Regions from separate parts of the Homo sapiens genome. Here regions 1, 2 and 3 are each linked to region 4. The links come from fine-mapping of genetic effects on gene expression. A gene starts in region 4. Each other region holds a variant in brackets. All regions are shown on one strand. Distances are from middle to middle.

Region 1 (8,104 bases), 220 kb after region 4:
GCCTGGCCAACATGGTGAAACCCCGTCTCCACTAAAAATAAAAATAAAAAAAATTAGCTGGGCGTGGTGGCAGGCACCTGTAATCCCAGCTACCCTACTCGGGAGGCTGAGGCAGGAGAATCGCTTGAACCTGGGAGGCGGAGGTTGCAGTGAGCTGAGATCGTGCCACTGCACTCCAGCCTGGGCAAAAAGAGTGAGACTGTGCCTAAAAAAAAAAAAAAAATTGAGATGGGCCAGGCACAGTGGCTCACGCCTATAATCCCAGCACTTTGAGAGGCCAAGGCGGGCAGATCCCCTGAGATCAGGAGTTCAAGACCAGCCTGGCCAACATAATGAAACCCTGTCTCTACTAAAACAAAAATTAGCCAGACGTGGTGGCAGGCCCCTGTAGTCCCAGCTGCTCAGGAGGCTGAGGCAGGAGAATTGCTTGAACCCAGGAGGCGGAGGTTGCAGTGAGCCGAGATTGCACCACTGCACTCCAGCCTGGGCAACAGAGCGAGACTCTGTTTCCAAAAAAAACAAAAAAATGGATGTTTATCTTTTTCTTATTGAAATTCTTTATTATGGTATGAGTCTTTTAATAAAGTTTTATGTCACTAAAAATTTATGCACACACACACACGCCAATGATCACTTCAAACAGTTAAAGTCATGTTGATCCTATTAGTAGAATAAAATTAATTGTTTTTAATTTTAGAAAATGAACCCAGATGAGCAGCCTTCACTTCAGTTTGGTTGGGCAGGGATGGAGGGTGGTGCTGAGGCTCACTTGTTTCTTCTTCCCCCAGGATGGGCTGACTGTGACTCTGCATTAGCCTCTTATGAACCAGGGTGGAGACCACCCCATCAGCTGCTTTCCAGAGCTAGGCTCTCACAGCTCAGCCGCCTGCTCACTGTTCACCATGTGTCTCCTATGTGGCAGCTTCTGGGGACCTGCAGATCCTGGGACACCAGTCTCATCCCGAAGGAGCTCACCATCAAGGAGAAGAGTTAGATCAGCGAGCAAGGTGGCGTGACATAGAGTGCTGAGTGCGAGAGGTCTGCGTGGTCAGGATGCTGCAAGAGAAAGACTGGAGGCCCCTCGCTCTAGATAGGTCCCAGGGAGCTGATGTCATTTGAGCTGTGCCTTGATGGATGAGCAGGAGTCTCCAGGCAGAGGGGGCAAGAAGCACCGTTCAGGCAGGGGGTTGGTTTGCAAGAAGCACCACCATTTAGGCAGGGGGTTGGTTTAGGGCTTCCCAGAGAGGGACAATCTAGTGGCTGGAGAGTAGAGTGCGCTGCGGGACAGGGCTGGAGAGTTAGATTAAGACCCGGGAATGGCCCCTCACACAAAAGACAAAGTCTTTCCTTCCTCAGCTTCCAGAGAGTCCTGGTACCAGGAATCATGTTTCCTGCAGGTCACAGCATTTCATCCCATCCTGCCCTCGGGGCTGAGATTTGCTCAGTGAGTGGTCCTTTGCAGGATGACTTTTCTGTTTAGAGGAATCATTATTTTTTAACCAAAGTTATTATTGACCACAAAATAGAGCATGCCACTTGGTGCTTAGTGCACACTCAGGTAGTATGGGGTCTAGCCCCTCCCCTTACCTGAGAACACTTCTCTAGGAAAGAGTGACCTTTGGTTCTGCATCATTTTTCTTCTGGAGTTGGGATCTGGTGGGCAGGAGATGAAGAAAGATGGTCTCCCTGGTGCCCAGATTTCTGGGCTGGCTGGGAGAAGCAGGGCAGGAACCCTTGGAGCAAGGGTACCATCATGGGTGCGGCCCTTCTCGATGGGGTCCGGGGTCTGCATGGGCTGTAGCCACATGGCAGGCCGGAGAGGCTGCGTGAAGGGCATACCTGAAGGATTGGGCCTGCCAGAGGAAGCTTCTGGCCTTGGTGATCTCCTGGGCCAGGATCCTTAAATCATCTCCTTCAAATGGTGGCAATGTGGGATCCTTGAAAAGAGGAAATGAGTGTGAAGTTTATGACTGGATGGGAGCTGAAAATCCAAAATCTCAGGAAAAGCATTTTAGAGCTAATCACGTTCTGGTTTCCATCCAGTGCAGGAAATCTTGTGAGCCTCTGCTTGTATATCTCCAGGGTCAGGAAGCTCACTACCTATCAAGACAGTCATTCTGCAAAGGGGAAACTTTGAAATATGGTGTCTGAGAGTCAGTGTAGGGAGGGGACGGTGGCAAAGTACGATGGTGTCAGAATCTGAGTGAAAGTGGCCCCACTCTGGTCCAGTGGAACAGAAATGACACCGTTTCCTTATCTCAGCGCTATTCAGTAGAATCTGTTCAGCCATTTTTTGCATTTCTTCTAGTGAAGTAGACTTACAGGTATGCTTTTTATTTGGTTGATTTTAGAGACAGAGCCTTGCTCTGTTGTCCTGGCTGCAGGGCAGTGGCGTGATCACGGCTCACTGTAGCCTCGACCTCCTGGGCTCAAGCTATCCTCCCACTTCAGCCTCCCAAGTAGCTAGGACCACAGGCATGTGCCACCACACCTGGCTGAGGCATGCTTTTTTTTTTTTTTTTTTTTTTTTTTTTTTTTTTTTTGAGACGGAGTCTCGCTCTGTCGCCCAGGCCGGACTGCGGACTGCAGTGGCGCAATCTCGGCTCACTGCAAGCTCCGCTTCCCGGGTTCACGCCATTCTCCTGCCTCAGCCTCCCGAGCAGCTGGGACTACAGGCGCCCGCCACCGCGCCCGGCTAATTTTTTGTATTTTTAGTAGAGACGGGGTTTCACCTTGTTAGCCAGGATGGTCTCGATCTCCTGACCTCATGATCCACCCGCCTCGGCGTCCCAAAGTGCTGGGATTACAGGCGTGAGCCACCGCGCCCGGCTGAGGCATGCTTTTTAAAAAAAATGTTAACTAATAAAATTTCGCCACCTATCCTTAAAAATACATCTTACCAATCCCAGCGCTTTGGGTGGCTGAGGCGGGTGGATCACTTGAAGTCAGGAGTTTGAGACCAGCCTGGCCAACATGATGAAACCTCATCTCTACTAAAAATATAAAAATTAGCTGGGTGTGGTGGCAGGCACCTGTAATCCTAGCTACTCGGGAGGCTGAGACATGAGAATCACTTGAACCCAGGAGGCAGAGGCTGAAGTGAGCTGAGATCATGCCACTGCACTCCAGCCTGGTGACACAGCAAGACTTCATCTCAAAAAAAAAAAAAAAAAAAAAAAAGAAAAAGAAAAAAGAGGAAGCCATCCCTTCTGCCTGGCAGTAGTAGCACAGCAATCCCATTCTGCATGCAAAAACAATTCAGAGAATCTGATTGGATAAGGAATTAAGCTGAGAGCCTTAAACATATCATCACTTGTTTTCCTGTGTAATAAGGACGCTTGGGTGAATATTCATTACTTTTACCAATTTGTTCAGTTCTCTGTATTATTTATAATACTTGTCCCTAGAAGAGCTAGTTGAACCAAAGGAGTCATGTAAGGCTACCCAGGCTTCAAAGATTATGCCAGCCGAGCCTGACGGTTCACACC[T/C]GTAATCCCAACACTTTGGGAAGCTCAGGCGGGAGGATTACTTAATCCTAGGAGTTTGAGATCAGCCTGGGCAACATGGTGAGATCCTGTTTCTACAAAAAATTAAAGAAATTAGCTGGGCGTGGTGGCACACCTGTGATCCCAGCTACTCTGCAGGCTGAGGTGGAAAGATTGCCTGAGCCCAGGAGGTGGAGGCTGTGGTGAGCTGTGATTGTTCCTCTGCACTCTAGCCTGGGCAACAGAATGAGACCCTGTCTCAAAAAAAAAAAAAAAAAAATTATGCCATGTCCTGTGAAAGTAACCTTTAACCTCTGAAAAGAAATCTGGAATTCTGATTGGTTGTCTTACTTGATAATTTGTTGCGCTGGGAATGTTATCACTGACAACATTGCATTCCTAAAAGGTATAAATAAGTGCAGAATTTTCCTATTAAGTCAGAAGTGGATCATTGAAATCTATGACTTTACTAGACTTATTACTTAATAGATAACCTATGACTTTGCCAGATCTATTGCTTAACAGATAACTTGAATGTCTGTATTTCAATGAATTGAACCCCAGAAGACACAAATATGCAGGAATTAAAGCACAAAGTTTAAGATCATGGGTGTCTTGGGGCTCTAGCTATACCACTTCCTCTGACTAGTTTTTATTGTTGTTGTTTGTTTGTTTTGAGACGGAGTCTTGCTCTGACACTCAGGCTGAAGTGCAGTGGCGCAATCTCGGCTGACTGCAACCTGGGTCTCCCAGGCTTAAGCAATTCTGCCTCAGCCTCCCGAGTAACTGGGATTACACGTGCATGCCACCATGCCTGGCTAATTTTTGTATTTTTAGTACAGACGTCATTTCACCATGTTGGCCAGGCTGGTCTCAAACTCCTGACCTCAAGTGATCCACCCACCTCGGCCTCCCAAAGTGATGGGATTACAGGTGTGAACCACCGTGCCCAGCTTTAGGTGTATTCTTAAACCTTGCTGGCCCTCTCGTTCACCTGTTAAATGGGTATAATATTAAAAGAGGTTATCTACATAAAGCCACATAAATTTCCAACAAAGGCAAACTGGCCTGACCATCAGGAAATATAACACCCTCAAATCCTGCTTCTTTCCCAGCCTTGAGGAGAGTCAGCCTAAAAGGACAGCAGCAGGGAAACCCAATCCTTTTCAGCTAATATTTTGTCTCAACGAAAAGCAGAGATCTTTTTCGTCAGAAGGAAAACCCAGGATGGGCGTGGTGGCTCATGCCTGTAATCCCAACATTTTGGGAGGCCGAGGTGGGAGGTTCACTTGAGCCCAGGAGTTCAAGAAGGAAAACCCCATGCCTGTTGATATTTTATCGAGCCGTTTCAACAGACCTCATGCTCAGTGGCTCTGCAACCTACCTTTTCATTGATGAAGCCTTTGGTCAGCAGGCTGTGAATTTTGGAGAGTGTGTCCTCACCCACAGGGCAGTGATAGCGTCCGCCGGTGAAGGAAGCCAGCTTTCTCAGGAACTCAACCGCCGCTCTGGAAGGAAGGGACAGAGGGCTGGTGGGAAGGCTGACTGACCAGGCAAGTTCGTGTGACTCCCCACGTCCATGGGGAACTTAAGTCCGTGGGGCTTAAGAGAAATCAGCCTGGCAATGGGCCGTGGCTTGTCCCATGGAGACCACCATTAGAGGACACTTTCCCCACCAGCTTCTGGACAGCTATAGCAACTGCTGCTGCTTGAGGGAAGAGGAGTCCCCGTGTGAGTGTCACCATTTAGCCTGGACCCCCTGAAACCACACAGCCCACACACTCCAGCCCCCATTTCTTTTCTTTTCTGAGACAGAGTCTCAGTCTGTCACCCAGGCTGGAGTGCAGTGGCACAATCTTGGCTCACTGCAACCTCAGCCTCCCAGGTTCAAGCGATTCCCCTGCCTCAGCCTCCTGAGTAGCTGGGACTACAGGCACCTGCCACCACGCCCGGCTCATTTTTGTATGTTTTTAGTTGAGACGGGGTTTCGCCATGTTGGCCAGGCTGGTCTCGAACTCCTGACCTCAGGTGATCTGCCTGCCTTGGCCTCCCAAAGTGCTGGGATTACAGTCATGAGCCGTCGTGCTCAGCCTAGCCCCCATTTATTTATGGGACATTTATCCAGTGCCTACTATGTGTTAGGCCTGTAAAGGACACACATATTACACTTATGGGGCTCATGGTTTAGACCAAGAGATAAAATGTGTCCCTATGCAGTCTGTTTTGCTAATAATAAAGTTTTTTTTTTTTTGAAGGAGCTGAGTATGTCTTATCTGACATGTGTTCTTTTTCACATTTTTATTTTGTTTTGTAGAGATGGAATCTTGCTATGATATCCAGGCTGGTCTCGAACTCCTGGCCTCAAGTGATCCTCCCACCTCAGTCTCCCAAAGCACTGGGATTATAGGCATGAGCCATTGTGCCCGGTCATAGCACATGGTCTATAGTGATCGTTTATAAAAAAAAATAACCATGACAATGCTACATTAATATTTTTCTCTCTGGCTTTTCCCCTAAATGTCCCCTAAATATTCACAAATGTGATCCCAGGGAAGAGTAGGAGGGAGACTGTAAAATGACTGTGTGAATCCCTTGCAAATGTGTTTCCAGGCTGGAGGAAGTCAGAGGGAAATATCTGGGTAAAGAGAGGGGTTTTCACCCTGTGGTGTGACACCGGCTTGGGCCGTCTAGAAAAACAATGCTTCTCCTAACTTCTTTCTTTTCTTTCTTTTTTTTTTTTTTTGACAGTCTCACTCTGTTGCCCAGGCTAGAGTGCCATGGTGCAACCTCCGCTGACTGCAACCTCTGCCTCCCTGGATCAAGTGATTCTCACGTCTCAGTCTCCTGAGTAGCTGGGATTACAGGCGCCTACCACCACACCTGTCTAATTTTTGTATTTTTAGTAGAGACAGGGTTTCACCATGTTGGCCAGACTGGTCTTGAACTCCTGACCTCAAGTGATCCACCTGCCTCAACCTCCCAAAATGCTGGGATTACAGGCGTGAGCCAGCATGCCCGGCCGCTTCTCCTAATTTCTGATTTACAGGATTAGGGCCCAGGAGAAACCCGTGTCTAAGTGAGCAGCTAGATTAGGTGAGGGGCTTGGATCTCCCTGCTGAGATGTGTGGCTGTGGAAAAAGAATAAAACTCAGTCAGACTCCATATTGCGCACCTGTCTGAGCAGTTCAAGGAAATGGTGTGCACTTTCACATCTCTTTTCTCCCTGAGTTTTTGGACTTCATTTAGGACAAGGCTGCAGCTTGTGTCTGGCTTTCCGTCGGTCAGGAGGTACAATCCTTCCAGATCATGGAAACTGAAAGCTTTCTGAAAGAACGCAGGAAGGCTGTCAGGCTCAGGGGAGAGGCTCACCCAGAACACAAGAACCAAATGCCTAAAGGTAGTGCCTGCTGCCGCCTCTGCCAAAATGCATCTGATTGGATGCCACTGACCTGTTCAAAAAGACTGAGATTCTCTTTCAGCCTCAGACAGACTAAGGAAGCTGCTGAGGTTTAGGAGAAATAGCATGGTTCACTGCCTAGCTGGTTAATCCCAAGCAAGTCACTTAACCTCTCTGAGCCTCTGTGTCTTCATCTATTTTTTTTAATTTTTATTTTTTTGAGATGGAGTTTCGTTCTTGTTGCCCAGGCTGGAGTGCAATGGTGCAATCTCGGCTCACTGCAACCTCTGCCTCCCAGGTTCAAGCAATTCTCCTGCTTCATCCTCCCAAGTAGTTGGGATTACAGGCATGTGCCACCACGCCCGGCTAATCTTTTGTATTTAGTAGAGACGGGGTTTCACCATGTTGGTCAGGATGGTCTTGAACTCCTGACCTCAGGTGATCCACCTGCCTTGCCCTCCCAAAGTGCTGGGATTACAGGTGTGAGCCACCGCACCCAGCCTGTGTCTTCATCTATAATGTGAGAACATTGAGAATCCTTTTCTCACTCGGGTGTTGGGAAGATGAAATGATGTAGTGCTTTGTAAATTATAAAGCGCCCTTTGTAAATCCTAAAGCATCGTGCAGCATCAGCATAGGGGATGATGGTATTTGTTTTGCGTCAAGGTCGGGCTCCGTGGTGGGACTTGCCAGCAATGCTTGCAAGATGGAGGTGCTGCCCTGAGCTTGCAGGTGGGTCACCCATTGCATAGCCTCATGACACGCTGCATCTGTGGTCTCCACCAGCGTGTCCTGCCATGACTGAAAGCTCTCTGCAAAGCTGAGCAGGTTAAAACTGGGGAGGAGGAAAAGAGGAGGTGAGGGGCAGAGAAGGGGAGAAAGAGATTGGTTAGAACAGGCCTGTCTAGATTGAATTCAGATAAGTTACCCTCATGAGGACTATTCTTGCTCGTCACTGAAGACCCCTACAACGAGCCCTGTGGCCCCTCAGGGAGAGGGCTGTGGGGCCTCTTGAGAATGAGAGGGTACACACTGACAATTTGAATGCAGACAGAAATAGATTTAAATCCCAGCCCAAGCCAGACACAGTGGCCTGTGCCTGTAATCCCAGTACTTTGGAAGGCCAAGCTGGGAGGATTGCTTGAGGCCAGGAGTTCAAGACCAGCCTGGGCAACATAGTGAGACCCCCATCTCTACGAAAAAGATTTTTAAAAAATTAGCC
Region 2 (8,104 bases), 42 kb before region 4:
AAGGATGGTCTACTCACTGAGCCTGCAAGGCTGGTGTGCAGGACAGGCCAGCTACACTCCCCAGGTGTGTGCAAGACCGGGGACGAGTCAGTCATTGGGAGGTGAGGTGCTCGGGCAGTGTGGGATGGAGGAGGAGGGAGGGAAACTGAGTGTGGGCTCTTCGTATTGGAGAGGAGGGGACGGCCATGGCACAAAGACTCAGATGGGAAAGTGTGAGAAAGCAGAGATTTCAAAGGAGCTACGGTGGAGACCCACAGAAGAGGAATGCTGAGGCTTTTCTGTCTGAAATGCTGAATAGACTCTAGCACACGCAAAACAGCCCACCACAGCGAGCTGCAGGATTCTTCCGGGCTTTTAACAGTGGTCTTGTAAAAAAAATTAGCCGGGCATGGTTGTCCCAGCTACTCAGGAGGCAGAGAGGGGAGGATGGCTTGCGCCCAGGAGGTTGAGGCTGCAGTGAGCCATGATCGCACCACTGCACTCCAGCCTGGGTGACAGAATGAGACCCCTGACTCAAAAAAAAAAAAAAAAAAAAAAAAAAAAAAGACTGGAACATTCAAAACCTGTTGATGGGCTCAAGAAATTCTCAAGAAATTCTCTTGCCTCAGCCTCCTGAGTAGCTGGAACTACAGGTGTGCACCACCACATGTGGCTAATTTGTGTATTTTTTGTAGAGACAGGGTCTTACCATGTTGCCCAGTCTGGCCTTGAACTCCTGGACTCAAGGGATCCAATGACAGGCGAGAGCCACCATGCCCAGCCACATTTTTGCTAAATTCTTTACACTGGTGAATCTCAAAGAATTCTCTGATCATCACACCATATCCTGCTAAGTGTGCAATTAACCTGTGGACTTCAGTTGGACACTTTCAGATTAGCATTAGCTATGTGGGGCCACCAAATGCCAACTGTTAAATTATCACTCAAAGATAAATGACACTTGAGTGTGCTGTTTGAGTTTATACCTCTAAAAAATGCTTATAGTACCATGAGACTAGTGTGCCAACGTGTCTGGCTGCCAACGTGTCTATAGCTGAGCCAATAAGAATTAGTCTCTAGAGCCTCTGTTTCCAAGGAAGTCAATCTCTAGATTCCCACATTGGCTGCATGATGGAATAAGCCAGGGGCTACGAAAAATACTGATGCCTGTTGAAGCTTGGAGGAGCTGGGGTTGGGGTGTAGGGCAGTGATGATCACATATGAATAGAACTGGGAGTCTTTAGTGTTACTGGTGGCAATGTTGAAATGCATGAGGGTTGTTTATTGTATAATGAAGTATTTTTCACATGAAGTCATATGAAGTATTCCATTCCACTGTATTTGTTCTTATTTTAACGATACAACTAGGTAATAAAGGAAATGAAGTATTGTTTTATATTTTAAAAAAACACATATGCCTGGATCTCACGCCCCAGACATTCTGATTTAACTGGTCTAGGGTATGGTCTGGGCATCAGGACTTTTTCAGGCTCCAAGTGATTCTAATGTGCAACAAGGTTGAGAACTATTGCTTTAGGGCCTTCGTGTTCTTTGAGAATACAAAGAAAATTCAGAGAGATAGGTTAAAAACACACTTGCCATTCCTCCATTGCTCTGACATCTATCAGCAAATAAGCTATAACAGGAAATACAGGGCTTTGGGTCTTTTCTATTCCAGATTCTGTTCCTGTCCTCTTTTAGCCACCAGGGTTTTAATTTTATTTATTTATTTATTTATTTATTTATTTATTTATTTGAGACAGAGTCTCGCTCTATTGCCCAGGCTGGAGTGCAGTGGCGTGATCTTGGCTCACTGTGACTTCTGCCTCCCGGGTTCCAATGATTCTCTTGCCTCAGCCTGCTGAGTAGCTGGGATTATAGGCACGCACCACCTCGCCCGGCTAATTTTTGTATTTTTAGTAGAGACAGGGTTCCACCATGTTGGCCAGGGTGGTCTCAAACTCCTGACCTCAGGTGATCTGCCTGCCTCAGCCTCCCAAAGTTCTGGGATTACAGACATGAGTCACAGAGCCCAGCCTAATGACTGATTGATTGATTGTGACACAGGCTCTCACTCTGTTGCCCAGGCTGGAGTACAGTAGTGAGATCATAGCTCACAACAGCCTCGAATTCCTGGGCTCAAGTGATACTCCTACCTCAGCCTCCCAAGTAGCTGGGACTATGGGCATGTGCCACCACTCCCGGCTAATTTTTTTTTTTTTTTTTGAGACAGAGTCTGGCTCTGTCACCCAGGCTGGAGTGCAGTGGCGCAATCTTGGCTCACTGCAAGCTCTGCCTCCCGGGTTCACGCCATTCTCCTGACTCAGCCTCCCGAGTAGCTGGGACTACAGGCACCTGCCGCCATGCCTGGCTAATTTTTTTTGTATTTTTAGTAGAGATGGGGTTTCACTGTGTTAACCAGGATGGTCTCGATCTCCTGACCTTGTGATCTGCCTGCCTCGGCCTCCCAAAGTGCTGGGATTGCAGGCATGAGCCACTGCACCCGGCCAGTCCCAGGTAATTAAAAAAAATTTTTTTTGTAGGAATGGGGTCTTGCTATGTTACCCAGACTGGTCTCAAACTCCTGGCCTCAAGTGATCCTCCTGCTCTGGCCTTCCAAAGTGCTGGAAGATGAGAGCTACAGATGAGAGCCACCACACTTGACCATCACCAGGGTTTTCTACTACAATATTGCTTGAGGCTTTTACTGCTACTTGGATTTCAAGCAATGTCCCCAGTTCAGGTGGAAAACAGTCACCTCGAAAATGGAGAAGATGAGTCTGAGGAAGAATTACATTCTACAGAAGAAATGCGGTCCAGGACAGTCCACATTCACTTCCTTCATTCAGATACTCATTTCTTAGCCACAATTACCCAATTTTGAGCCATGCTTCTATAATGAGATACCACTGAGTTCTGCGGTTCTAACTCCTTAATCTCTCATGTCAGTCTCCTCTTGCCTTCTGTCTTCCACTGCTTTAGGGCTTGGATTACATGCGTGAGCCACCACACTGGCCCCATGCACAATATTAACCAGTGGAACCAGCATTCCTCATATAAAATCACTTTGTTAGCCTTCTAACTGTTCTTTGCAATCCAGCTAACATCCCTTCAAAACACACTTCAGGGTAATCTTTTATTTTATTTATTTATTTTATTTATTT[A/T]TTTATTTTTTTTTTTTGAGACGGAGTCTTGCTCTGTCACCCAGGCTGGAGTGCAGTGGCACAATCTCAGCTCACTGCAAGCTCTGCCTCCCGGGTTCACGCCATTCTCCTGCCTCAGCCTCCCGAGCTGCTGGGACTACAGGCGCCCACCACCATGCCCGGCTAACTTTTTGTATTTTTAGTAGAAGCGGGGTTTCACCATGTTAGCCAGGATGGTCTCGATCTCCTGACCTCGTGATCCGCCCACCTCAGCCTCCCAGAGTGCTGGGATTACAGGCGTGAGCCACCGCGCCCGGCCTAATGTTTTATTTTTACTTATTTATTTTTTGAGACAGGGTCTGGCTCTGTCGTCCAGGCTGGAGTGCAGTGGCGCAATCTTGGCTCACTACAACCTCCACCTCCCGAGTTCAAGCAATTATTCTGCCTCAGCCTCCCAAGTGGCTGGGACTTCAGGTGCATGCCACCATGCCCGGCTAGTGTTTGCATTTTTTGTGGAGATGGGTTTTTACCATGTTGCCCAGGCTAGTCTCGAACTCCTGAGATCAAGAGATCTACCCACCTCGGCCTCCCAACGTGCTGAGATTACAGGCGTGAGCCATCACGCCCAGCCCAGGGTTATCTTTTAAAAGGCAAATCTGATATTATTACTTCTTGGTTTAATAATTATAATGCTCCTTTCCTTTTAGGATCAGGTCTACACTTCTCAAGCTCTACTACTAAACCATCAGCCATTCCTCCAATCATGTCCTACAACCTCATGCCTCTCTGTGCTTGCACAGACTCCCTGCTACTATGAATTTTCAAAATTCATTAGAGAGATCATTTATTTTCTCCTCAGTCTGAATTGTATGCTAAGCCAGTGGGCACTCCCTCAACAGCCCACACTTACATCTGTAATAGCACCTAGCATCCAACATTAAGATTCTCACTATAATTGACTGTGAGCTTATTCAGAGTGGGGGCTGCATCTTTTCCTCTTTTTCCTTTGGGTTTAGCACAGGACCTGGTACGTAGTAGGTGTTAATATTTGTTGAATGAATGCTGTATCATTTTACACATCTATGCGTTGCACATATGTCTATACTGTTTCTCTTCACTGGATACATCCAATCTCCATGCACAGTATTATTATTATAATTATTATTGAGACAGGATCCTGCTCTGTCACACAGGCTGGAGTGCAGTGGCACAATCATAGCTCACTACAGCCTCCAACTCCCAGGCCCAAACAATCCTCCCACCTCAGCCTAGCAAGTAGCTAGGATTACAGCTGTGCACCACCATACTCGGCAAATTTTTCAATTTTTTGTAGAGAGGGGATCTTGCTATGTTCCCCAGGCTGGTCTCAAACTCCTGGCCTCAAGGGATCCTCCTGCCTCAGCTTCCCAAAGCACTGGGATTACAGGCATCAGCAATGGCACCTGGCCCCATGCACAGTATTTATGCCTCCACTGAAACCTGGCTGAAGCATTTTTTTTTCTGTGAAGCCTTCCTGGACTTGGTTCCCAAGACAGTGATGATCATGCCCACCTTTTAGCCACCATTATATCTTATATATACTTCTAATCATAGTATCTACTATTTCGTGCTGCAAAAATCTCTCCTCATGTCTGTCTCCTTTACTAGATTGTAAACAGCTAGTTGCAGCAACCTATTTTATTTATCTTCATATTCTGAGCACTTATGATATAGTAGGCAACTAGTAGTTAAGCCTTCATTTTTCCATTTAGTAATTAAGCCTTCAGTGCTTCTTTTACACTATAAACAGATTGTTCTAAAACAAAATTCAGATCATGTTTTTCTTTCTTTCTTTTTTTTTTTTTTTTTTTTGAGACAGAGTCTTGCTTTGTTGCCCAGGCTGGAGTACAGTGGCACCATCTCAGCTCACTGCAACCTCTGCCTCTCTGGTTCAATCGATTCTTGTGCCTCAGCCTCCCGAGTACCTGGGACTACAGGCGCATGCCACCACGCCCAGCTAATTTTTGTATTTTTAGTAGAGATGGAGTTTTGCCATGTTGGCTAGGCTGGTCTTGAACTCCTGGCCTCAAGCAATCCACCTGCCTCGGCCTCTCAAAGTGCTGGGTTACAGGTGTGAGCCACTATGCCTGGCTCAGATGATGTTTGTCTCATGCATTCAAATCTTCAGTGATTTCCCTTTACCTAGAGTGGTCTTTCCCAAAGTACAGCATCTGGACCCCTGCTGGCACACATGATAATTTTTACATGATACATAATAGTTCTTTTTATTTTTATTTTTTATTTTTTGAGATGGAATTTCACTCTTGTAGCCCAGGCTGGAGTGCAGTGGCACAATCTTGGCTCACTGCAACCTCCACCTCCTGGGTTCAAGCGATTCTCATACCTAAGCCTCCCGAGTAGCTGGGACTACAGGCGCCCACCACCACACCTGGCTAACTTTTGTATTTTTAGTAGAGATGGGGGTTCACCATGTTGGTTAGGCTGGTCTCGAACTCCTGACCTCAGGTGATCATGCCTTGGCCTCCCAAAGTGCTAGAATTGCAGGAGTGAGCCACCAGCCATTTCTTTTTATTTTACTGGCGTTAGAAAAATTGAAACCTACCAAATGAATGATTTTATGGTTGCTTTTTCTTATGGCAGTTAAGATTTGTTTTAAGTTAGTGATTTAAAATAAATTTAAAGAAAAATACTGAGTAAATATTAGTACATAGAGTACTCATATAACAAATGTCAAAAATTCATCATATTTGTGAAACCCTAATGTATAGGATTAAAAGCACATACATCTTCTAAATCCAGTGTACAGATCCTTCACATCATCAGCCCTGATTGACTTTTCGACTTCACCCCCTCTAGCTGCCATCAATTGTGCTGTAACTCATGTCACTAATCAACAGGTTCTTCCATGTGACTTCTCCTAACTCCTTTCAGTCTATTCGTTACACAGCACCCCAAGGGAGGCTGGCACCCCAAGGGAGGCTGTTAAAAAGTAAGTCAAGGCTGGGCGTGGTGGCTCACACCTTAATCTCAGCATTTTGGGAGGCCAAGGCAGGCGGATCACCTGAGGTCAGGAGTTCGAGACCATCCTCGCCAACATGGTGAAACCTCGTCTCTACTAAAATACAAAAATTAGCTGGATGTGGTGGCACACACCTGTAATCCTAGCTACTCAGGAAGCTGAAGCAGGAGAATCACTTGAACCCAGGAGGCAGAGGTTGCAGTGAGCCGAGACTGCACCACTGTACTCCAGCCTGGGTGAACAGAATGAGACTCTGTCTCAAAAAAAAAAAAAAAAAAAAAAAAAAGGTAAGTCAAATCAGGTAATTACCCCCGCTCAAAACTAAAAACTGTCCAGTCGCCATTTTTTCTGTTTTTTTGTTTTTTTTTTTAATTTCTAGGAGATGCATGGTTAACTATCAGGGGTGACATGCCACTAGATCTGCAATTTAACTTAAAATGGTTCAGAGAAGGCTGGATGCGGTGGTTCACGCCTGTAATCCCAGCACTTTGGGAGGCTAAGGAGGAAGGATCACTTGCGCCCAGGAGTTTCAAACTAGCCTGGGCAATCTAGTGAGACCCTGTCTCTACAAAAATTTTTAAAAATTAGCCAGGCACAGTGTCGTGCACCTGCAGTCCCAGCTACTAGGGAGGCTGAGTCAGAAGGATCCCTTGAGCACAAGAGTTCAAAGCTGCAATGAGCTGTTATTGAGCCACCGTACTCAGCCTGGGAGACAGAGCAAGACCCTGTCTCCAAAAAAAAAAAAAAAAAAGATATATAGGCTAGGTGTGATGGCTCACACCTGTAATCCCAGCACTTTGGGAGGCCAAGGCAAGTGGATCATTTGAGGTCAGGAGTTTGAGACCAGCCTGGCCAATGTGGTGAAACCCTGTCTTTACTAAAAATATAAAAATTAGCTACTCAGGAGGCTGAGACATGAGAATCGCTTGAACCCAGGAGGTGGAGTTTGCAGTGTGATGAGATCATGCCACTGCACTCCAGCCTGGGCGACAGAGCAAGACTCTGTCTCAAAAAAAAGGAAGAATGAGAAAGCACCTTATGTCATGACATGACACAAACTTCAACATATAAAGTGGCCGGGCACAGTGGCTCACACCTGTAATCCCAGCAACTAGGGAGACTGAGGTGGGAGGATCACTTGAGGCCAGAAGTTGGAGATCAGCCTGAACAACACAGCAAGACCCCATCTCTAAAAAAGTAAATAAATAAGTTTGAGGCTGCAATGAGCTATGATTGTACCACTTCACTCTCAGCCTGGGTGACAAAGCAGAATCCCATCTCTAAAAATAAAAATAGAAAATAAAAATAAATAGTCCAGAGAACAGAATATGCATACACACAGAGATACAGATAAACCAAATATGGTAAAATGTCAGCAATTGATGAATCTAAGAAGTGGGTATATGCATGTATTTTCTCTGTAATTTTCTTTAAACTTTTTTTATATTTGGAAAATTTTATAATAAAAAGTTGTGAGGAAAATAAGATGGTTTAATTGACAGAAGGATGGATACATTAATTAATACATGATAAAATTAATACAGTAGGTTATAAATAGTTGAATGTAGATTACTGTGTAACTTTTAAAACTTTTTTGTATATTTGAAAATGTTTGGCCCAGCATGGTGGCTCACGCCTGTAGTCCCAGCACTTTGGGAGGCCAAGGTGGGTGGATCACCTGAGGTCATGAGTTCGAGACCAGCCGGACCAACATGGAGAAACCCCGTCTCTATTAAAAATACAAAATTAGCCAGATGTGGTGGCGCATGCCTGTAATCCCACCTACTCAGGAGGCTGAGGCAGGAGAATTGCTTGAACCTGGGAGGCAGAGGTTGCGGTGAGCCGAGATCGCGCCATTGCACTCCAGCCTGGGCAACAAAAGCGAAACTCGGTCTCAAAAAAAAAAAAAGAAAAGAAAAGAAAAGAAAAGAAAATGTTCATAAATAAAAGAATGGAGGAAAAG
Region 3 (8,104 bases), 250 kb after region 4:
TCAAGAGATCCTCCCACCCCAGCCTCCTGAGTAGCTGGGAGTACAGGCATGTGCCACCATGGCAGGTTATTTTAAAAATTTTTACAGAAATGTGGTCTCACTATATTGCCCAGGCTGGTCTCCAGGGCCTGCATTTTAACAGCATCCTTAGGTGCTTGTCTATACATTAAAGTTTGAGAAGCACTGGTTTAGAAATCATGCTGCAGAAACCTTGGCAAGGTATCCACCTGGGGGAAGACGGATGAGGTCGCAAAGGATAATGGACACCCAGGACGTGGCCTACCCACCATGTCCTGGTCGGGGATGCCCCCAGTGAAGAGGTAGATTCCCTGCGATTGGTGTTTGTCTTTGTCCTTGAAGTCTACTTCCACAGCCTTCCGCAGGGCGCTGAGAACGTTCCTGCTGCCCCGACACCGCAGGTTCAGGGCCCACCTGCGGAGGCAGAGATGGCCATGCTGAGGGTCATTGGCCCATGCCCAGGGCATACCTTTTGGGAGTAGCTGAGAGCCTTTTCCATCTCAGACGTGATGGAGTCGATGTCATCACTCTCATAAAGTGAAGATGGCCAGGTGGGGAGAGCAGCAGACAGAAGGAAGCTGTTTTCTGATTTCTGCCCATGGCTGTTTGGGGTCAGGGACTCTAGAGAGCTACTTCTTGGTGGAGAGGGGGACAGAGAAAACAATGCCTGCAAACCTTCCCTCAGACACAGCCCCACGAAGTCTCTGCCCATAACCTACCGCCAGGCACTTTGTAAATTGTTGTGACTCACGGGAACCATCTCAGGCCTCCAGCTTTCAATTGTGCTTCCAAACCTTTAAGAAGCAAAGAGAGTTCGTTCTTAGGCTGGGGGAGGTCCACTTGGTGGCCCACCTCTTTGGGCTTTGCAGGCTTTTAGTGGGGACAAAATTCTGATGAGATCCCCTAAAATGTGAGGATGTCACTGGCCTGGGCCAGCCATGAGATTTCCTTGTGGGTCATATGTCCCAACATACTTCAGCCAAGACACAGTGTGAGCCAGCTTTGGTCAGCTTCCTTTCTGAAGCATTGAGCTATGGCGTGTGGCCCCCTCTTTAACCTCCCCTAGCATGGCTTCTCTCACTGCACATTTCCCCTCCCTATCCATACTATAGTTTGTTTTTTTTTTTTAAATACACATCTATGTAATCAACAGGATTTGGCAAAGAAAAAAAATATACCTCTAGCCTGGGCAGTATAGCAAGACCCCATTTCTACAAAATAAAAAAAATTAGCTGGGTATAGTGGCACATGTCTGTCAACCTAGCTACTTAGGAGGCTGAGGTGGGAGGATCACTTGAGTCCAGGAGGCTGAGGCTGTAGTGAGCTATGATTGTGCCACTGCACTCCAGTCTGGGCAATGGAGTGAGATCCCATCTCAAAAAACAAACAAATCCTCAAATCCAGAAAACCCACATTGTCTCATTTGTCCTGTAAGACAGAATTTAAGATCTTTGAGAAGAGGATTTATACCCTTTATGAAGGAAAAGTTGTCCCCTCTCTAGTTTGAGATTAATTCCTCCACCTGGCCTTTGACCTCATCACCCATCTCTTCTGAGACTTTGCCCCACAGTTCCTCCCTCACATCCACACATTCCCAACTTCTCTCCACTTCCCTCTGCCCCGCGCCTCTCTACCTGTTTCAGACTCTCTATACTTAACAAGAACATCCTCCTTCCCCTGGGAAGCTACTCTATGAGTGACTTCGCTCTTTTCTCTTTCCCCTTGTGGACAAGCTCCCTGGAAACACAGTATACCACCACTTCCTCACCTCCTCAACCTATTGCAGTCAAACTTCCACCCTGGGGGCATTCCCTGGTAGAGATAAAGAATGCCCTCCATTCCCCCACCAGTGGAAATATATCCCTATTATCGTTGGATAATAAATCTGGGTCAAGTGATTCTTATGCCTCAGCCACCTGAGTAGCTGGGATTACAGGCCTGCACCGCTGAGACCCACTGATTTTTGTATTTTTAGTAGAGACGGGGTTTCACCACGTCGGCCAGGCTGGTCTCAAACTCCTGGCCTCAAGTGATCCACATGCCTCATCCTCTCAAAGTGCTGGGATTACAGGGGTGAGCCACCGCGCCCGACCTTCAGGTACTCCTTTAGAGCAGTGCAGGAATGGACTAACACAGCATCCCAACACCTTTCTCTCTTGTTTTCCTCCCACCTCTCTGGGTTCTTCTTTCTTGTGTTCTTTTGGTGGTTCCCTTCTTCTGCCCACCCTTCGAATGCTGGTGTCTTCCAAGTGCTGCCTTTGATTGTCTTCTCTCTCCTCTTCGCATCTCCACAGGTGCGATCCCTGCACTACCATTTATTTCATTCATAGAATCAAAATGCTGATGGCTCAAAACCCCTTATTTCTTGGCTAGGTCTCCTCACTGGAGCTCCTCCTCCTCTTAATGTCTCCAAACTCTTGAGTGTCTCAGACTCGGGATGTTTAAAACCATCTTTCCCTTCAGAGATCTGTTCTTCTTGGGACATCATCTTCTCTTCACCATTCTTTCACCCCCTACAGCCAGTGATGACATTCTGTAGATTCTAACTCCCCAAAATCTCTTCCATGCACCTCTTTCTTTCTTTCTTTCTTTCTTTTTTTTTTTTTTTTTGAGATGGAGTCTCGCTGTGTCGCCCAGGCTGGAGTGCAGTGGCGCAATCTCGGCTCACTGCAAGCTCCACCTCCCAGGTTCATGCCATTCTCCTACCTCAGCCTCCCGAATAGCTGGGACTACAGGTGCCCACCACCACGCCTGGCTAATTTTTTGTATTTTTAGTAGAGATGGGGTTTCACCGTGTTAGCCAGGATGGTCTCAATCTCCTGACCTCGTGATCCGCCCGCCTCGGCCTCTCAAAGTGCTGGGATTACAAGCGTGAGCCACTGTACCCAGCCTCCATGCACCTCTTTCTTGATTAACTTTTATTTTGGGCTCAGGGGTACGTGTGCAGGTTTGTTATATAGGTAAACTCCTGCCATGGGGGTTTGTTATATAGATTATTTCATCACCCAGGTATTAAGCCTAGTACCCATCAGTTATTTTTCCTGATTTCCTTTCTCTCACCCTCACCCTCCAATAGGCTCCAGTGTGTGTTGTTCCCCTTTATGTGTCCATGTGTTCTCATCATTTAGCTCCCACTTATAAGTGAGAACATGCTGTATTTGATTTTCTATTCCTGTGTTAGTTTGCTAAGGATTATGGCCTCCAGCTCCATCCATGTTCCTGCAAAGAACATGATCTCATTCTTTTTTATGGCTGCATAGTATTCCGTGGTATATGCATACCACATTTTCTTTATCCAGTCTACCACTGCTGGGCATTTACATTGATTCCATCTGTTGCTATTGTGAATAGTGCTGCAATGCACATATACATGCATTTGTCTTTATGACAGAATGACTTATATTCCTTTGGGTATGTACCCAGGGATGGGATTGCTACTTTGAATGGTAGTTCTGTTTTTAGGTCTTTGAGGAATCATCACACTGCTTTCCACAATGGTTGAACTAATTTACACTCCCACCAAGTGTGTAAGTGCTCCTTTTTCTCTGCTACCTCGCCAGCACCTGTTATTTTTTGACTTTAATATGGCATTCTTACTGGCCACGCACTCTTTCTTCCATTCACATTGCCTTGGCTCAAGCCCACTCAACACTAGGGCAGGCAATTGCAATAGTCAAACTGGTCTCTTCCCTCCAGTATTACATCCCTTCAGTTCCTCCTTCACAGCATTGCTTGAGCATTTGAAGACGCAAACCCGATTGTATTTGTACCTTGCTTGCAATCCTCCAGTGCCTTTATATCCTATAGCACAGGAAACTCGTGAGCATGGCCTATATCAATCCTCCATCACCTGGTATTTCTGTCATGCACAATCTCTCCCTCTCAGCCCCATATCCATGCTGAACTACCTGATGGTCCCTAAGGTTCTAGCATACGTCACACCTCTGCTCATGCTGTTGCCTCTACCTGGAACACCCTTTCTCCCTAGGACCCCATCATTCCCAGGTGCTAGGCAAACATCTACTTATTCATCAAGACTCAGCAAAAGGGGCACTTGCTCCATGAAGATGTCCTGAGCCTACTCCACCCAAGTGGAATGGACTGATCCTGCCACTGATACCTTGCAGTCCCATACCTAGCTATCTACTCATTTCTATAGAAAACGCTTAACAGCACTCCTTAACATCCCTGTCTCCCACTGTTAGGCCATGAGTTCCTCGAGGATGAGTTTTGTGTGTCTTCATGTCCATCTCCCCAGTGCCTGGCACAGGGACTGGTTCATGCAGATTGTCAATGAAACATTGCTGAATGAATGAATGGGTAAATAAATAAATAAAATTCCTTATCTATAATGTTACCATAAATATTTTTATATAGAGTTTATTAAGGAATGACTGGGCTCTGGTACAGAATAATATCTAATACTAACTGTTGACTTAATAGGTTTAGAAAATGCCCTATTTGGTATGAGGTTGTATAAAAACCTACACTTTAAGTGGGTTCCTTTTCTCTCTGTCTTCCCTTATTAGTTAAAATAGTATGCAATTTAAAAAACTATATATATAGTTTTTATGGCTGAGCTCAGTGGCTCAAGCCTGTAATCCCAGCACTTTAGGAGGCTGAGGCAGGCGGATTACTTGAGGTTAGGAGTTCAAGATCAGCCTGGCCAACATGGTGAACCCCATCTCTACTAGAAATACAAAGATTAGCCAGGTGTGGTGGTGTGTGCCTGTAGACCCAGCTACTTGGGAGGCTGAGGCAGAAGAATTGCTTGAATCTGGGAGGAGGAGGCTGCAGTGAACTTAGATCAAGCCACTGCACTCCAGTCAGGGCAACAGAGCGAGACTCCATCTCAAAACAAAAACAAAACCAAAAACAAACTA[T/C]ATATATAGTTTTTAAATTAAAAATGCTAGATATGTACTATATTTAATTATATATAAAATATAATTTTAAAACTATATTAACATTTTAAAACTATATATACTATATATAATTTTAAAACTATATATAATTTTGAAGTAAGTTCAAATCTTCAAAACCTCTCTGATCTTTGTTGTATTTAATTCTAAATTATACAGTTTTAAAAATTGCATACCATTTATATATATATACACATAATTAAATGTATACATATAATTTTATTTATTTATTAAAACACAGATGGGGTCTCACTATGTTGCCCAGGCTGGTCTCAAACTCCTGGATGCAAGCGATCCTCCTGTCTCGGCCTCCCAAGGTGCTGGGATTACAGGCGTGAGCCACTGCACCTGGCCAAATTTATATATACAGTTTTAATTTAAATTCAGAATTGGAATCCTAAATGTTTGAAAAGGTATGGCTTGCTGGAGACAGGCTGAGGACTGACACTAGGGCATGGCTGGGGTCCTTCCTTTCCTCTTCTTCCTATTTCATCTTGGAAGCCAAATGGGCCAATGGGCTGAATTACTTTATCCTGGTTGATCAAGCAGTGTGTTATGGGGTCACTTACCACCTTCGCCCCAGTAGGACAGTCCTGCAACTATTTAATTATTCAATGCCCCAAACAAGATCATCCAAATCAGATAAACCGATGGCTATCCTAGGAAGCCGGGTGACCATGACGTCAATATCTATCGTCCAGCAACGTCCAAAGCCTCAGCCCAATGACGGCATCCAAACACACACGACCCACCCTTGCCCCCAGGAGCCAGGAGACACATACGCGATGAGGTTGAAACAGTCCTTGTTGGATAACTGCTCCTCCAGCAGCAGCCGCAGGGAGTGCTGGATATGAATAATGTACATGGAATTGGTCGCAGAGATATCGAGCAGTACAACCACCCTAAAAGGAAACACGAGCTTTAAGAGGAGAACCGAATCTCTGAGATAATGTTTATTTTGTTCCATTTTACTATTTAAAGTTTTTTTCCAGGGGAATTTTGCATGCCAAATTCATAGCTGGCCAAAATCTTCTCTGTGGTTTGAGGCCAACGGATGTGGGCTTACAATGGTAGATTAAGGGGGTCATGGAAGCCCCCCTTCTCTCCCAGGAGGTGCTTTAATGGAATAAAGCCTCATGGTGGAGATGGTTTAAGTGGTAGGCGCTTCATATAATGATTTTCACAGATTTATTTTAAAGAATTAGCATTCAATATTTTTATAGGTCAGAATATGAAAAAATATATATGTATATTGCCTTAGGCAAGTCACAAATCCTCTCTGATCTTTGTTTAAGTAGTTTAACTATAAACTACTTGTAAGACTCATCATAAGGTTGCTTCAAGAACAAATATATAAGGCCGGGCGCGGTGGCTCACGCCTGTAATCCCAGCACTCTGGGAGGCCGAGGCGGGCGGATCACAAGGTCAGGAGATTGGGACCATCCTGGCTAACATGGTGAAACCCTGTCTCTACTAAAAATAAAAAAAATTAGCCGAGCGTGGTGGCGGGCGACTGTAGTCCCAGCTACTTGGGAGGCTGAGGCAGGAGAATGGCATGAACCCGGGAGGCAGAGCTTGCAGTGAGCCAAGATCGCGCCACTGCACTCTAGCCTGGGTGACAGAGCGAGATTCCGTCTCAAACAAAACAAAACAAAACAAAACAAAACAAAACACACACAACAAATATATATATATTTAGACGGTCTCTCTCTGTTGCCCAGGCTGGAGTGCAATGGTGCGATCGTGGCTCACTGAAGCCTCAACCTCCTGGGCTCAAGAGATCCTCCTGCCTCAGCTTCCCAAGTTGCTGGGACCACAGGCACACATCACCATGCCTGGCTAATTTAAATTTTTTTTTTTTTTTTGTAGAGACCAGGTCTGCCCATGTTGCTCAGGCTGGTTTTGAACTCCTGGCCTCAAGTGATCCTCCTGCCTTGGCCTCTCAAAGTACTGGAAATACAGGAATGAGCCACTATGCCCGCCATAGGTTGGGGTCTTCGTAGGGAAAACGAAAACCAGGTGAGCAAGTAACATAAGGAATTAGGTGTATCTGGGCCTCTTGGAAAATATTTTTATCTTTTTGTTTGCTCTCTTTCTGTTTTAAGATCTCTAGCCTTATTTGTTCTTTCTCTAATTTTAGAACTTCAAACTTATATTCCCACCTTCTGCCCCATTCTCATTTTGAGACAGCTATGGATAGCAAAAGAAAATCTATGGGATTTACAGTCAGAAGACCTTGGTTCAAGTTCCGCTTCCTACCAGCTGTGTGGCCTTAGGCAAGTCACAAAACCTCTCTGATCTTTGTTTAAGTAGTTTAACCATAAACTACTTGTAAGACTCATCATAGGGTTGCTTCAAGAACAAAATTACATAATAGATGTATAGTGGCCAGGTGCGGTGGCTCATGCCTGCAATCCTAACATGATGGGAGGCTGAGGCAGCAGAATCGCTTGAGGCCAAGAGTTTGAGACCAGCCTGGGCAACATAGCAAGACTCTGTCTCTAATAATAATAATAATAATAATAATAATAATAATAATAATAATAATAGATGTATAGTATTACAAAATATAATACTTTGTAAATGTTAATTCATCAAACAAGGTATGGAATCATAATAATGGCCATAATAGATAACTATTGTTTCTCCCAACTCAGCATCCATTACCTCATCTGGCAACAGCATCCTGATTTTCCTTTGGGAAACACCTCTGCCTCTATCAGTCAATTTGAGTTGTGTGAAGCTGAGCCTACTCCAAGCTCCAGGGATGGGCATTTGACCCTGGCCAATCAGAACATCACACCTCTGGCTGGGTGGGAGGATCTATTCATCCATGACCCATTTGCTCTGGCCAGGGAGGAGGTGTGATTTTTTTTTTTTTTTTTTTTTTTTTGTGGTAGACACAGGGACTTGCTCTGTTGCCCACGCTTGAGTACAGTGGCACGATCATAGCCCACTGCAGCCTTGAGCCCCTGGACTCAAGCGACCCGCCTGCCCCTGCCTCAGCCTCCTAAGTGGCTGGGACTACAGGTGTACACCACCATGCCCAGCTAATTATTTTATTTTTTGTAGAGACAGGGTCTCACTATGTTGCCCAGTCTGGTCTCAAACTTTTGGCCTCAAGCGATCCTCCCGCTTTGGCCTCCCCAAGTGCTGGGATTGCAAAA
Region 4 (8,104 bases):
CACCACGCCTGACCCTCAAAAACTTTAATTCTCCATATCTTTCTTTTCTTTTCTTTTCTTTTTTAAAGGAGAATTGTTGACTGGGCGCGGTGGCTCACACCTGTAATCCTAGCACTTTGGGAGGCTGAGGCAGGCGGATCACTTGAGGCCAGGAGTTTGAGATCAGCCTGGCCAACATGGCTAAACCCTGACTCTACTTGAAACACAAAAACTAGCCGAATATGGTGGCACATGCCTGTAATTCCAGCTACTCAGGAGGCTGAGGCACGAGAATCACTTGAACCAGGGAGGTGGAGGTGACAGTGAGCAGAGATGGTGTCACTGCACTCCAGCCTGGGCCACATGGTGAGACTCTGAAAAAGAAAAAAAAAATGGAGAATTGTTAAAGAACATTTCAATATGCATTTGAAGTCAAAATGAGCTTCTGTTTTCGATGGAGCAAACAGCGGGCACTTTGAACCTTGCGAATCAGTGATAAGAATCGTGAAGGGGGCCGTGCACGGTGGCTCACACCTGTAATCCTAGCACTTTGGGAGGCTGAGGCTGGTGGATTGCCTGAGGTCAGGAGTTCAAGTCCAGCCTGGCCAACATGCTGAAACCCCATCTCTATTAAAAATTCAAAAATTAGCCAGGCGTGGTGGTGGGCGCCTTTAATCCCAGCTACTTGGGAGGCTGAGGCAGGAGAATCACTTGAACCCAGGAGGCGGAGGTTGCAGTGAGCCAAGATCACGCCATCGCACTCCAGCCTGGGTGACAAGCGTGAGACTCTCTCAAAAAAAAAAAAAAAAAAAATGCCCCTGCATGATTCTAGCCCTTTAGCTTCCACAAATCACCATTGCCAATTATTCCTAAATCCAACTTGCTATCTTTCCAAAGGGTTCTATCTTTAGTGATTAAGATAGTTTGTTTGAAGTGATCTTATTTCAACTCTGAATATCTCGATGGACAACTAGGGCAGTAGAAGAGGCTTTACAGGACCTCACTTTCTTTTCTTTCTTTCTTTTTTTTTTTTTTTTTTTGAGACAGAGTCTCACTCTATTGCCCAGGCTGGAGTACAGTGTCACGGTCTCGGATCACTGCAACCTCTGCCTCCAAGGTTCAAAGGATTCTTGTGTCTTGGCCTCCCATGTAGCTGGGATTACAGGCTTGCACCACCACTCCCGGCTAATTTTTGTATTTTTAGTAGAGATGGGCCACCTTATTGGCCAGGCTGGTCTTGAACTCCCAACCTCAGGTGATCTGCCTGCCTCAGCCTCCCAAAGAGCTGGGATTACGGCATGAGCCACTGTACACAGCCTTTTTTTTTTTTTTTTTTTTTTTTTTTTTTGAGACAGGGTCTTGCTCTGCTGTCACCTATCATAGCTCATCGTAACCTCAAACTCCTGGACTCAAGCAATTCTCTCACCTCAGCCCCCCAAGTAGCTGGGACTACAGGTGTGCCAGTAACATTTTGCCTTTTTGAAGAAAGGGATTTGTGAGTTTACCATTCCTCTTTTATTATTATTATTACTTTCTAACAGTGTTATTCCTTCTACATTTTTTGCTTGGCATCCTACTGTAAGAAAGTTTTCTTTTCTCTCCCATTTATTTATGTCAGTATGGACTCATGGATTCTTTCCTTTTTATTCAATGGGTTATAATCCATTACTATGATTATTTATTGTGATGCTCATAATTGGTCCTCAAGGGTACCTGCACTTCTACAGTATAGGTCACAAGAACACAGCCTTACATTTAAAATGAGCACAAAATACTTGCTTTCAGGGTCTCTCTGATTCAGATAGCTCTGTGAGCAAGGCAAACAATCATCTTTCCTGTAAACTGTTTGCTAAAAGGCTTCTCTGCTGGTACTGAGTATGGCGAGAACTCTAGGTTTTCTCACTCTAGGTCCCTTGTGCTTTCCACTCTATTCAGCAGTCTCCTTTAAGGACTGAAGGGTAAAACTTCAGGTAACAACTCCACAGTGGGAGGTCTTGTCCTTGGCAAGACTTCTCCAGAGTAGCCTACAGCCTATGTGTAAGGTAACCCTGGAGTCAAGTGCTGTTTGATACAGCATCAGCGTGAGGTTAGGTTATGCTGGTTTGAGCAAAGATGGGAGGCAGAGAGACACCCTGAATTTTATTACCCACAAGAATTATTCAGGATGAGTTTTTCCCCCCTTCCAAATTACCCAAGTCTTTTTTTATACAGAAAGACAAAAAAAGTAGCTTGAGTCTATAATTCCTTCCCTACAATTTCCCTTATTTTTAATGTGCAAGTAACTAAAAAAGCAAGATCACAGAAGGGTTTATAACAAAAAGCCAAAGTCCCCAGCCTCAAATCACTCCTCCTCTTAGGAAAACTTTTTTTTTTTGTTTGGTTTTTGAGACGCAGTTTTTGCCCAGGCTGGAGTGCAATGGCGCAATCTCGGCTCACTGCAACTTCCACCTCCCGGGTTTCAAGCAATTCTCCTGCCTCAGCCTTCCAAGTAGTTGGGATTACAGGCATGCGCCACCACGCCCAGCTAATTTTGTATTTTTAGTAGAGATGGGGTTTCTCCATGTTGGTCAGGCTGGCCTCGAACTCTCGACCTCAGGTGATCCGCCCGCCTCGGCCTCCCAAAATGCTGGGATTACAGGCGTGAGCCACCGTGTCCAGCCTCGGAAAACTCTTAATTGCTTCCCATTTTTAGTTCTGGCAGCTCTCTCCATATTTGTGGAAACTATTCATTGGATTATCAATGTAAGGTATTATCTGTCGACTCACTTCTAAAATAGATCAGGATTTAACACTCCTCTCCACCTCTTCCCTCTCTCTGAATTTCTAACAGTTTATTACCTCATGTTCTAGAGATAATCTTTCAATTGTATACTTAAACCTCGATTTTTTTTTGTTTCGTTGCTCAAAGTTAGTTAGATATTGGCCCTGTTGTCTTCCATCAGCTGCACCTTTACCTTTACGTCAAGGTTGAGAACATTGACCTTCAGGTCTGTCATCCTGCTTAAGAGTTTCCGTGCTTTGTCTGCAAGATGGTGCTTAAAGCTTTACCTAGGAGCAGTATTTGCTGGGTTATGTCGGTGGAGGACAGCGTGCTCTGCCTCGCTGGCTACTAAGTGCTGGAGCTGCAGCCTGTCCCCTCCAGGTGCAATGTCACGTCCCCAGATGCTTAACTTGTGGTCTAGGGGTACCTTTTAAAAATCGTTGCAACACTGCTTACAATTTTCGCCCTCCAAGTGGACAGCTTCGGGCATCCCTCACCGCCCCAGATTCTCAAGGGGGTCTGGTGCCCACCGTTTTATGTAGCGTGAGTTTAATTCCCAGGGCTCAGATGTCAAGGAGACAAGAGCTACCGCTCAGTGGGCGTTTTCTCAACCCAAACTCCCGATCGACCTCGAGTCTCCCCGCCGGACCCGGAGCAAATCTCAGAGTCAAGATGCGAGAAGGGGTGGCCGGGCGGCGGACCTCAGGCTTCCGGCACCCTTGCGCTTCCCGCCGGCACGAAGGACTCCCCTGGACAACCGCCCGCCTCTCAGAGGCCGGAGTCCTAGGCCCTCCGGCCTGCGTTGCCTGTCCACAGACGCGCCGGCCTCGGGACACCCACCACAGGGGTAAGACGCGCCTCTGCCAGCTCCCCAGCCCGAAACCCAGAACGCCCTCCTAGGAGCCTCACAGCGCAGATCAGGGGACGGGCTTTCGGCCGCACCCCTTCACTCTTTCCCCGCCTTCTTTGTTTATTCCGGACCCACCATTGGCTGCTTGCCCTCGATACCGGGCGAGCCGCCGGTCTTTGGAGAGAGGCGATTGGACGAAGTCCCTGCCGCTCGGCCAGCAGCCCGCTCGCGATTGGTTGAGGCGCCGCCGGGGGTTTGAATCGCATCCCCGGCCGGGGAGGGTTCTGCCAAAGTGCCACGTTGGGCCCGGCGGCGGCGTGAAGACTGGCGGCTGCGTGAGACTCCGGCTCCAGGCGTTCGCACCGTAATGCCCGGCCGTTGGGGCCGTCGGTAGGCGCGAGGCGAGTCGAGGCAGCCGGCCGGTCGGCGGCCGCCGGCGGGAACGGGGCTGAGGCGGCGCAGCGGAGTCTGGGCGGCGGCGCGTCCCGCCCGAGGGCGGCTCTGGCTGAGGGCGGAGGGGCCGGGGAAGAGCCCGGGGCAGCGGCTGAGGCGGGACGGCGGCGGGGGCCGCTGCCCCTAGAAGACCCAGCCGAGATGCTGGCGGAAAACCTGGTAGAGGAGTTTGAGATGAAGGAGGACGAGCCGTGGTACGACCACCAGGACCTCCAGCAAGGTGAGGGCGGGGGCGCCCCGCGGGCGGGCGGCGGCCTGGCCCGGGAGGCCCCCGCTGCGAAACTGTTAAAAAGTTGCTTTTTGTGGCGGCGGAGGATGCAGGTGCCGGGAAGGGCTCAGGCTCACCTGGCGGCTGGGCCGGCCGTGCCCGCGGATCCCGCCCGCAGGAAGCCTCGGCACGGGGCCCACGGCCTTGCTAATGCGCAGTTGAATATCAGCCCCGAGGCGCGTGGGGGCCAGGGACGAGCCAGGCACCGTTTTAAGCGCTTTCCGTGGATTAGCTAGTTTAATCCTCACTGCATTCCTCCGAGGCAGACCCGGGTGAGCCAGTGTGTCCCGCAGTAAGTGGCATAGCCCGAGAAGCCGCCCCGTCGCAGGCTGTCTAGCCCAGCGCCTTTCATGGCCAGCGTGGAGGGCCGGCTGCTGCAGGTGGTAGTTGTTTTGCGGCGTAGCGGGAGCTGTGCGCTCCGCACCGTAACTCCAGGAGACAGTAACTTTTTAAAAATTAATGTTTGAGGGTACATGGTAGGTGTATATATTTGTGGGGTACATGAGATGTTTGGATACAGGCACGCAGTGTGAAATAAGCACGTGATGGAGAACGGGGCGTCCATCCCAGCATTTATCCATTGAGGTACAAACAATCCAATTACACACTTTTGTTATCCCATTTTCCATATGAGGAAAGCGGAGATTAAAACGGTAAAGTGGCTTGCCTAAAGCTAAGTGTGGGAGGGAGTGTTTTTTGAACCCACACACTCAGAAGAAGAGTTGTAGTCACTGCTCAAACCCCATCTCTTCCTTACCATCCTAGTTTACAGTTTTTTTCAGTTGGGCGTTAAGCTGTTAGGCATAGTTCACCAGATGCCAATTGAAACGACAGAAGAAAGAGCGCATCTATCTCTGCCACTTTTCTTCAGTTTGCACGCCAGCTTTCACTTAGAAACAGGCCTGCCGATGGTGTCTCCAGAGAACAATCGTAGAGTAGCCCACTCTTTGGGGCCAGTGGGGCCCCTGTTTTTCTTATACTAATAGCAGGAGCTAGCAGTTGGGGAACACTTTTTATGTGCCTAACACTGATAGGCCCATAACACAGTTGCTCATTTAATTCTCCCAGTAACACAATAGAGGTAGTAATGTTGGGGAGTGCTAGGGTTCTCCTTAAGACTCCAGAGCAAACGTTCTTAACCGCTATACTGAGTACTGAACAATCCTCAGGAATTTTTCCAGGCATCTTCAGTTTCTGCAATTCTGTGTAAATGCTCTCAGCTCTAATCTTGCAATGAAAATTAACATCTCATTTAGTTGAATATTAAATGATCATGTTGCTTGTTCATGCTAACCACTGAACATGGCAGAAGAAAAGAATGTAGACCTGAATAACTCAGAAAAGGAAAATAAAATGAGCACCTCTTTTGGAGGAAGATAATTTCTTAAATTAACATGCAATCACTTTAACCAAAGTAATTCACCTTTATTACACTTACAGAGTCCAAGCTACTTAGTGGTTGCAGTGCAGTGTTTGGCACCATCTTCTTTATGTCCAAGAGACAAATTTATTATACATATTAACAAACCTGTTTTCAGATTTCCCCGTAAGGATTGATGGCCTAGTTTGATAGTTTCTCCAGGATTTGTGAGGCAACCACTGTACCACTGCAGTACTTCCCTATAATTTAATTTGTATCATCACAACTAAATATTTCTCTTTCCTGTATTTAAGAAGCATTAATCTTTAAGGGCATAGAGGGGGCAGGTTCTTTTTTCTTGTGTTTCCAGCATCTAGCATAATACTTGGCACATACTGGAAGCTCGATTTTAATATTTGTTGAACTGCACTGAAGCACTCGCACAGAATTGTTTTCATGGCTCTCTTCCATCAGGTGCCTTAGTCCACGCTGCATTCTCCCGCTGTGGGAGGTTGTTAGGAACAACAGCTGTAACACTTCAATCTACCGAGCAGCAAGTGCAACGTGTCAGGGTTACACGAGGAATTCTCTTTAACCTCTGATCAAAATAAAGTCATCAGCTCTTCAAGTTTAACCTTAAAAACACAGGTCTGGGCTGGGCGCAGTGACTCATGCCTGTAATCCTAGCACTTTGGGAGGCCGAGGCGGGCATATAACCTGAGGCCAGGAATTCGAGACCAGCCTGGCCAACATGGTGAAACTCCATCTCCACTAAAAATACAAAATTAGGTGGGTGTGGTGGCAGGCCCCTGTAATCCCAGCTACTCGGGAGGCTGAGGCAGGAGAATTGCTTGAAACTGGGAGGCGGAGTTGCAGTGAGCTGAGATCGTGCTATTGCACTCCAGCCTGGATGACAAGAACGAAACTCCCTCTCAAAACACACACACACACACACACACACACACACACACACATATCTGAACCTCTTTACTGCCAGTTGCATTTCTGTGTTTTTCAAAGGGCTGTTACGTTATCACAGTGGACTTTGACTTAACCCTCTGTGTCATAACCAACTATATGGAGTACGAGTAGAAGATGTGAAATTCCAACAATTGTAACTTGTGAATATGGCCTGTCAAAGAATAAAGGCTACAGTGTGAATAAAAGGGTATCCTTTCCCCAGTTTTGCTAAGTTATATGTTAACTCCTAAACTTTTAACAGATTTTAAAACTTGTTCATTTCTCAAAAATGTATTATCTGCTCTTTGCCAGGTATTCGCCTGGGCCCTGGGGCCACAGCACCTCCCCACATGAGTGGATAGGTAGGATTCCTACTCCCATAGAGTGAATGTTCCAGGAATCTGTTCACTAGAGAAGCCTGGAGGTGCCGCCTCATGGGATGTGCCCACTACAGCGCCTCGTACATTGTAGGCCCTCAGTAGACACTTGCTGCTGAATTAAGTTTGGGAGCAGGTCTGTCCTGTTAAACAGATTATTCAGCAAGTCTAGTGGGATTTTATGTGCAGGCATCTGTCCGTTTTTTAACATCCTCATTATTATTACTGAGCAAGGCTTATTTGGAGAGAACTGCTTAAAACTTTTTTTTTTTTTTTGAGGTGGAGTCTCGCTCTGTCCCCAGGCTGGAGTGCAGTGGCACGCTCTTGGCTCACTGCAATCTCCGCCTCCCGCGTTCAAGCCATTTTCCTGCCTCAGCCTCCCAAGTAGCTGGGATTACAGACACGTGCCACCACACCCAGCTAATTTTTGTATTTTTAGTAGAGACGGGGTTTCCCCATGTTAGCCAGGATGGTCTCAATCTCCTGACCTCGTGATTTACCCGCCTCGGCCTCCCAAAGTGCTGGGATTACAGGCGTGAACCACCGCACCTGGCTGGAAAACAACTTTTAATGATCCTGTTCTCAGTATCTTACAACTATAGAATGTTTTCCTTTAGCAGTAGTAAGCCATGCTCTGAATAGATTGAATCTTTGTATCAAAGTTTCCTAGGGTATCCGTTTTTAAATTGAAATTGCTGGAAATTTCTAACCTCAGTAAACTCTGGTCTACTATTCATACCTTGTTAGAAACATGTAAAGCTTTTGTGTAGGCAGGAGGAGAAAACCCTTTGCTGTTACAAAACTCTTTGATGAAGAGACTGTCTTTTGTCAGAGAGCTGAGTTGGCTCAGTAGGAATACTGACAATAATCTCTGTGGGTAAGATCTTTTCTGGGACAGCAGGAGCCTTCAGTGCAGGTAATGATGGTGCTTGCTTTGAAACATGCCCCTGAGAACAAGGTGGAAAGACTTCAGAGACTGGATTTTCTTTTAAACCAGCTGCTATTGTCATTTGGTGAGCTGTGCAAACTTAGAATAAGGATTCAGGTTTCTGTTATGTGGATCAGTAAATGAACTCTTAGTTTAAAGGAATCCTAA

Evidence for each region. PIP is the estimated chance that this variant, and not a neighbour inherited with it, causes the effect.
Region 1: its variant is fine-mapped to the expression of CDR2 in whole blood (INTERVAL, PIP above 0.99).
Region 2: its variant is fine-mapped to the expression of CDR2 in whole blood (INTERVAL, PIP above 0.99).
Region 3: its variant is fine-mapped to the expression of CDR2 in whole blood (GTEx, PIP above 0.99). The same link has a PIP of 0.9 or more in lung.

What each region holds. Positions count from the first base shown.
Region 1 is chr16:22,149,400-22,157,503 of GRCh38, reverse strand. It overlaps VWA3A (von Willebrand factor A domain containing 3A), which reads right to left. Exons shown (of 34, transcript NM_173615.5): 29 at 7,573-7,717; 30 at 6,658-6,809; 31 at 4,870-4,993; 32 at 1,840-1,937; 33 at 1,588-1,653; 34 at 540-1,472. The coding sequence ends at 1,602. Among named protein-coding and RNA genes, the nearest start is that of SDR42E2, 9.1 kb to the left of the region's middle. The variant T/C (reference allele first, on the strand shown) is at 3,489.
Region 2 is chr16:22,411,956-22,420,059 of GRCh38, reverse strand. It overlaps the pseudogene RRN3P3. Among named protein-coding and RNA genes, the nearest start is that of CDR2-DT, 41 kb to the right of the region's middle. The variant A/T (reference allele first, on the strand shown) is at 3,144.
Region 3 is chr16:22,123,913-22,132,016 of GRCh38, reverse strand. It overlaps VWA3A (von Willebrand factor A domain containing 3A), which reads right to left. Exons shown (of 34, transcript NM_173615.5): 17 at 5,720-5,839; 18 at 738-812; 19 at 288-432. Among named protein-coding and RNA genes, the nearest start is that of SDR42E2, 35 kb to the left of the region's middle. The variant T/C (reference allele first, on the strand shown) is at 4,902.
Region 4 is chr16:22,370,390-22,378,493 of GRCh38, reverse strand. It overlaps CDR2 (cerebellar degeneration related protein 2), which reads left to right and starts at 3,875. Exons shown (of 5, transcript NM_001802.2): 1 at 3,875-4,263. The coding sequence starts at 4,185. It overlaps CDR2-DT (CDR2 divergent transcript), which reads right to left and starts at 3,607. Exons shown (of 3, transcript NR_148970.1): 1 at 3,271-3,607; 2 at 2,934-3,167; 3 at 314-353. RefSeq lists enhancers at 3,103-3,152, 3,493-3,572 and a silencer at 4,113-4,342.